Linked DNA regions of Homo sapiens. The protein of the gene in region 2 purifies or fractionates together with the protein of the main gene of each other region. This does not show direct contact. Each region holds a gene or a part of one and is shown on either strand. Other genes may lie near its edges.

Evidence for each region.
Region 1: the proteins of SPDYA (region 2) and CLIP3 purify together in Homo sapiens (affinity purification with western blotting; one study listed by BioGRID). This does not show direct contact.

Annotation. Positions count from the first base shown.
Region 1 is NC_000019.10:36,030,460-36,034,373, forward strand, and holds the start of CLIP3 (CAP-Gly domain-containing linker protein 3), read right to left. Parts: upstream 2,415-3,914; 5' UTR 2,265-2,414; intron 2,177-2,264; exon of another isoform or gene 1,957-2,176; 5' UTR 1,899-1,956; coding exon 1,733-1,898; intron 1-1,732. UniProt on the Homo sapiens protein: Functions as a cytoplasmic linker protein. Involved in TGN-endosome dynamics. May modulate the cellular compartmentalization of AKT kinase family and promote its cell membrane localization, thereby playing a role in glucose transport in adipocytes.
Region 2 is NC_000002.12:28,827,699-28,831,512, reverse strand, and holds part of SPDYA (speedy protein A), read right to left. Parts: intron 2,366-3,814; coding exon 2,194-2,365; intron 1-2,193. UniProt on the Homo sapiens protein: Regulates the G1/S phase transition of the cell cycle by binding and activating CDK1 and CDK2.

The DNA.
Region 1 (3,914 bases), on a different chromosome or scaffold from region 2:
CGCTGACTCTCTGAACCTGGTTTCTGAACCTCACAGCTGCCGGGGATTCCCAGCCTGCATATCTTCCAAATTCCCCTCCTACATCCAACTCTGGCTGCACTCCATCCCCTTCTACCCAGTACCCAGAGGGAGCTTTCAAACTACAAATCAGACCTGCCACTCCTCTGCTCTTAAACACCCTCCCCTTGCCACTCTTCTCCCCTGTCCCACTTAGAATATAACCAAAGTCCTCACTGTAGCCTTGAAGGCCCTTCCAGATCTGGCCTATGCCAACCTCTCACCTCAACCTCGATCATTCCCTGAATGCAGCTCCAGGATCTTTCTGTTCCAAGTTCAATTCTGCCTCAGGGCCTTTGCACTTGCTGCTGTCTGCCTGGAACACTCTTTTTCCAGCTCTCTTATGGCTGATTCCTCCCCATGCTCTGGGTCCCAAACTAAATGTTACCTACTCAGAAAGAGCAGCCCTGACTACCCCTGCAGGTAGCTGCCCCCTAGTCATTATCGTATCTCCACCTTTAATTTCTTTTTCTTTTTTCTTTTTTTCTTTTCTTTTTTTTTTTTTTCTTTTTTTTTTTTTTTTTTGAGACAGTCTTACTCTGTCACTCAGGCTGGAGTGTAGTGGCTCGATCTTGGGCAACCTCTGCCTCCCAGGTTCAAGCGATTCTACTGCCTCAGCCTCCCGAGTGGCTGGGATTACAGACATATGCCACTATACCCAGCCAATTTTTGTATTTTTAGTAGAGATGGGGTTTCACCATGTTGGCCATGGCTGGTCTCAAACTCCTGACCTCAGGTGATCCGCTGGCCTCAGCCTCCCAAAGTGCTGGGATTACAGGCGTGAGACACCATGCCCAGCCCACCTTTTCTTTCTTTCATAGCACTTGCTCCAATCTGAATTTATCTGATTTCTGATTTATTTATCTGTTCACTTGTTTAGTCTCTCCTTCTCTCCTGCAAGGGAGGATCATGCCTGGATCACTTAGGATTAAATCTCCGGCACCCAGCATAAGGCTTGTCACAGAGTAGCAGCACTCGATAAATATCGCTCGGTCAATGATTAGACACTTTCAGTTTCTCCAAGAGGCCGCCCTCTCAGCTCCATACCCTCCTACCTCAGATCCTTTACCCAGCGGTTACCTCTCCTGGGAGCCCTTTCCCCTGACCCTTCTCTTAGTTAACCCCAACTCACCCTCCAGTCTTCTCAACTGTAACCTCCTCAGGGAAACAATGTCTTAAAAAACTCTTGCAGCAGCTTGTTTATGGTAAATACAATTTTCATAATGTCTTGTAATTACATATTTATATTACATTATATTTTTCTTTCTTGCATATAAACCTAAATGTGAAAAATTACATTATGGTTTAATACCTATTTGTGTGGCTGTTACTGAGGCCTGTGAGTTGTCTCAGGGCAAAGACTGGGTCTCTCTTGCCCCCTGCTGTGGCCCCAGCCCCTAGCATAAAGCCAGGTCCACAGCCGCTTTCAAAAAATGATTGTTGAATGACTAAATGATGGAATGATGTGTCATGAGTCAAAGACTAGGAGTATTACAATTCCATTCTCCAATGGGTGAATGAATGAATTAACGAGGGGTGCTCTGCAGCCAAGATTCCTCTGGACCACCTTCAAATTCCCCAGAATTCTCCCACCATCACCACCAGCAGAGCACAGCCCACCCTCCCCGGCCACCCAACGCTCCAGGCCAGATTCCAGGGTGGGGACAGTGGTTACCGTAGTCCTTAGGGAGGGGGGCAGGTGCCGAGGGGTGCACAACAGGCTTCTGCCGGCGCTCCTGGGTGGGGCTGGGGGCCTCGGGGACGGGTTCATCCTCCTCCTCCTCTTCTTCCTCCTCTCCTCGGGGTGGCGGGGCCATCGGGGCAGGATCTGTCTTAGTCATGGTCCTCGGTGGCCCTCGGGGGGCGGGTGCAGAGTTGGGGGCAGCCTTCAGGCAAATCCTGGAGGCAGAGGTCAGCTGGAGAGGGTGCCCGGCAGGCTCCAGGGTCCAAGCCCCTAGGAGCTTCCAGGGCCCCGGGTGGCCTCCGCGCAACTGGATCTTGGGCAACCATAGGGACCCCCGTTACCCATAGAGGGCCCCGGTGTGTGCGCCCAGCGCCTGCCACCTCCCCCAGGCCCAGCCCCCCATTCTTCTCCTCCCGCGTCAGGCCCCTCAGTCGCGGCTGCCCCCTCCCCGGGTTTGTTTATCTCGGGATTCAGGATGCTTCGCCCCTCCCCTTCTCCGCGGGCCGCCCCCTCCCCATCTTACCTCGGGCAGACAGCGCTGGGGACCAAAGTGGAGACTGGGGAGACTGTGGGAGCAATGGGGTGTCGGTGTCAGGGGACGTGATGGGGGAGGCAAGGGAGACAGAGAGAAGGGGACGAGGCCCAGACGCCGACAGGGGGTGGGGGCGGAGAGGGAGGGGCGCGACTGCGCATGCGCCTGCTGCCCCCCTACCGGCGGCGGGGGAGGAGGGACCAGGAGGAGGGACCGGGAGGCGCTCGCATTGATGGAGGGGCCAGAGGCGGCGACTGAAAGGGGAGAGCCTCCGGGCACTGGGAGAGGAAGAGATGGCTACGGAAAGGAGCGAGATGAGCAGATACAACGGCAAAAGAGAGGGCTGAGAGAGCGGACACAGATCTTCTCCATCCCCTTCCCCCACGCCTGCAAACCAGGCCGGTGAGGGCAGTGGTCTTGGGGCGTGGTGACGATGGGGACCCTCTAGGGGACCCTCTCTCTAGGACCCTAGACCGGACCCCTTCTCCAAGCTCACCATTCATAATGGGTGCCTCAGAGGGGTGATTTCCTAGAGACTCCTATCATGATCATCTCATCCTTACCATCATAATGCGAGGCTCACACACTGGGGCCCAGAGGTTAAGCAGCTTGCCCAAAAGTACATGAGTAGGTGATGGAGCGAACATTTGAAACCAGACAGTCTGTAAAGTCTGATTTTTATTTTTATTATTTCCTAGACAGGGTCTCACTCTGTCACCCAGGCTACTGTGCAGTGTTGTGATCTTGGCTCACTGCAGCGTCAAACTTCTGGGCTCAAGCCATCCTCCCACCTCAACCTCCCGAGTAGCCGAGACCACACGTGCATGCCACCATGTCTGGAGAATTTTTTTTGAGACAGGGTTTTGCCATGTTGCCCAGGCTGGTCTTGAACTCCTGACCTCAAGGGATCCTCCTGCCCCTGCCACCCAAAGCGCTGAGATTACAGGCACGAGTCACCATGCCCAGCTTTGATTCTTAATCACCATGCTACATGCCTGTAGCAGTGTCTGGGAAACAGATCTGCCGATTGACCCCTCCAACTCTCTCAGAACCTGTATCTTCCCCACGGAGGCCTCCTGAAGCCAGCCCAGGGTCCTGGCTCCATTGTCATGGCTTGGCTTCCCACCTGGAGCTGTAGCCTGCTCTGCCTCAAATCATCCCAGCCTGGATGGGGCTGGGTGACAGCCTTGAACACCTCATCCTTCTAATGCACAGGTCCAGTAGCTCCATCTCCAAAAGATTTCCAGGATCTCACTCTCCCCACCGCTACCCTGGGCCCTCATCTTGGTCCATCCTTCTTCTTCTGCCACCAGCACTACGGCAGCAGCCTCTTACCTGCTGTCCCCGTCCTCCTCCAACATGCAGCCACAGGGACCCATGAACACCTGTCACTTTGGAGCCCTCTTTCCCTCAGAGGGGTCTGCCTGCTGCACCTCACTCCAGGTAGAAGCCAAGGCTCTCAGCCATGGCCCACAAGGGCCTATGTGAACCTGCCCCATCATCTCTGCACTCACCTCCTCTCACCCTCTTTTGTTCACTCCACCCCAGCCACACTGGCCTCCTTGCTTCTCCCTACCCCAGGACCTTTGCACTGGCTCTTTTTTTTTTTTTTTTTTGAGATGGCAGTCTCACTGTTCCCCA
Region 2 (3,814 bases):
AAACAAGTTCCATTAATTTTTTTAAATGTTGCTAAATTTTAAAATTATGAAAAAGCATTAGGAATAATATAACAAACATCCATATCCCTACTGCCTAGAATTAATAGATGTAATACTGCTATTTTTGCTTCAAGCCTTTTTTATTTTTATTTTTTGGGACAGGGTCTTGCTCTGTTGCTGAGGCTGGAGGGCAGTGGCATAATCATGGCTCACTGCAGCCTGAATCTTCTGGGCTCAGGTGATTCTCACACCACAGCCTCTCAAGTAGCTGGGACTACAGGTGTGCACCACCACGCCTACCTAATTTTTTGTATTTTTTGTGGAGACAGTGTTTTGCCATGTTACCCAGGATGGTCTTGAACTCTTGGACTCAAGTGATCCAGGCCACCTTAGCCTCCAAAAGTGCTGGGATTACAGGTGTGAGCTACCATGCCTGCCTGCCCTTTTTAAATTAAAAGAAATAATATAGTTTCTGGTATGTATTTACTAAGTGCTCACTAAATCAATGTATATTAATGAATAAGTTAATTCTATCAAATCTTAAGATTTGCAAGTATATCAACATTTATCAAATTTTTCTTAACTAATACTAGAGCTTACAGTGACCACTGCTTTCCATTTAATTTTCTACTCTAGAATTTTTCTGTGGTTTGAAATAGTGACTTTATTAAAAACCAGAACATTTGGTAAAATAACTGATTATTAAATTTTTAGTGTCTTGCTGATTTATCCTAAAAGATTTGGCATTAAGGAAACAATATATTCTTTGTGAAAAGAGTTATGATTTTAAAGAATATTTAAATTGTATACCATTTAATATATGTGTTAAATAGTGTTTCAATTTTGGGAACCTGAAATTTCACATACTTTATTGAGCAGAAATTATTATTCAACTCCAGTGTTATTGTAATCCTAAATAAGATATTTTGGTTTGTTCATATCACCCTTTTTCAATATATTGATGATCCTTTAGACAGAAGAAATACACTAAAATAAAAGTACTTACTATAAGCCGGGCACGGTGGCTCACGCCTGTACTCCCAGCACTTTGGGAGGCCGAGGCGGGCGGATCACAAGGTCAGGAGATTGACACTATCCTGGCTAACACGGCGAAACCCCGTCTCTACTAAAAATACAAAACATTAGCCAGGCATGGTGGCGGGCGCCTGTAGTCCCAGCTAATTGGGAGGCTGAGGCAAGAGAATGGCGTGGACCCGGGAGGCGGAGCTTGTAGTGAGCAGAGATCGCACCACTGCACTCCAGCCTGGGTGACAGAGCAAGACTCTGTCTCAAAAAAAAAAAAAAAAAAAAAGTACTTACTATAGAAGTAGGCTGCTCTGAAAAATAGAAATGACAATTTGTTTGTTTGTTTTTGAGATGGAGTTTCGCTCTGTTGCCCAGGCTGGAGTACAGTGGCACCATCTCAGCTCACCGCAACCTCTGCCTCCTGGGTTTAAGTGATTCTCCTGCCTCAGCCTCCCAAGTAGCTGGGATTACAGGCACCAGCCACCACATTTGGTTAATTTTTGTATTTTTCTTTTTCTTTTCTTTTCTTTTTTTTTTTTTTTTGAGATGGAGTCTCGCTCTGTCGCCCAGGCTGGAGTGCAGTGGCGCGATCTCTGCTCACTGCAAGCTCCGCCTCCTGGGTTCACACCATTCTCCTGCCTCAGCCTCCCAAGTAGCTGGGACTACAGGCGCCTGCCACCACGCCCGGCTAATTTTTTTTGTATTTTTAGTAGAGACGGGTTTCACCATGTTGGCCAGGATGGTCTTGATCTCCTGACCTCGTGATCTGCCCGCCTCGGCCTCCCAAAGTGCTGGCATTACAGGCGTGAGCCACCGCACCCAGCCTAATTTTTGTATTTTCAGTAGAAATGGGGTTTCACCATGTTGGCCAGGCTGGTCTCAAACTCCTGACCTCAGGAGATCCACCCGCCTCAGCCTCTCAAAGTGCTGGGATTACAGGCGTGAGCAGGGCTTGCCCGGTTGACAGTTTTTAGTTATGGTGATAATAAGACAGCAACATTGTAATACACAAGTTGTATTCATGGTAATGATCAATGGTCTACTCCACATATTAGAAAAAAAAAAAAAACCCAGAATACCAAAACATTAGAAGCACATTAAAAAACAAGGATAATAAGATAAACAGAAAACAAAGATTACATATATAAAGCATTTTAAAATTCTTACCTCCTCACAACATCGCCTGCTTACAATAGCCCTATAGTCAATTCTATCCCAGAGCTGGTCCCTTAACTTTAAGAAATTAGGGAACAATTTTCTCCAGTTTTTCCCTAAAGCCCATGGAAAAATTTCGTACTTGGTTTCTTCTTCATCTTCTTCAACTGTATTAGCCAGATACCTAACAAAGAAGATCACAACCCAAAAAAGAAATGGGTAAAGGACAGAAACAGGTAGTTCACATACACCAAGACATAAAAGTGGTTTATAAACACATGAAAGGTGTTCAACGTTAATTAAAGAAATGCAGTTCAAAAATAGAGATACATGTAGTTAATTTTACCTTGTTGGGTTCTAGGTATTTCTTATTCCTACAAATCTTGAGCTTTGTTCTGGGATGCAGTTAGTTACTTTGAAATAGTCTGATTCTTTCAGATGTTGCTTTTATGATTTTTTTAGGTGGATCTGGAACAATGTTCAGTCTGGGGCTAGTTATTCCTCACTACTGAGGCAAGACCTTCCTGAGTACTCTTCTCAATGCTCCATGAATTATGAATCTTTTCAGCCTGGCTGGTGGGAACAGCCACTATTTGCAGCCGTATGTGAATGTTAGGCAGTATTCCTCCTAATCTTTTCTTAACATCTTTCCTCAGATTCAGGTAATTTTCTTATACACATATGAAACTCAGCATTCTGCTGAATGCTTGATGGGGACCAGGCATGCACAGAAGCAGGAAAACATGACTCATCATAAGGCGACTAATCAAAATCAACCCCAAACTGATACCCATGGTTGACATAAAAGATAAGGACACTGGAACAGTTATAACTATTCTGTATGTTCAAAAAGTTAAGTAGACATATTGAAAATGTACTTTTAGAGATGAAAACTACAATGTGTACAATGAAAAATACACTGATTGGGATTAATGGCAGATTAAATATTACAGAGAAAACATCTGTGAATTGAAGACACAATAGAAAGTATTCAAGATGAAATACACAGAGAAAAAAGAAACAAAAATCATAAACACAAGATGAGGGCCGGGCGTGGTGGCTCACTCCTGTAATCTCAGAACTTTGGGAGGCCAAGGTGGGCGGATTGCTTGAGGCCAGGAGTTCAAGATCTGCCTGGCCAACACAGTGAAACCCCATCTCTCCTAAAAATACAAACATTAGCTGGGCGTGGTGGCCTGCGCCTGTAATCCCAGCTACTTGGGAGGCTGAGGCAGGAGAATCGCTTGAACCCGGAAGGCAGAGGTTACAGTGAGCCACCGAGATTGCAACACTGCACTCCAGCCTGGGTGACGGGGAGACTCTGTCTCAAAAAGAAAAAAGAAAAAAGAAAAAAATAAGAAAAAATAAACACAGCATCAGTTTGATGTGGGACTTCAAGAAACAGGCGGAATTGGAGACTCTGAAGGCCAGTATCAATAACAATGAAGGATTCTTTCAATGCACTGTAATCTGAATAGGGCAGACAGAAAATGAGGTGGACAGAAGACATTTGAAGGAGTAACAGCTGAAAGTTTTTGAAATTTAATAAAAACTATAAACCTACAAAGAAGTTCAATGAACCTCAAAGCACATGAAACATGAAGAAAATTAAACCAGTGAACACCACAATCAA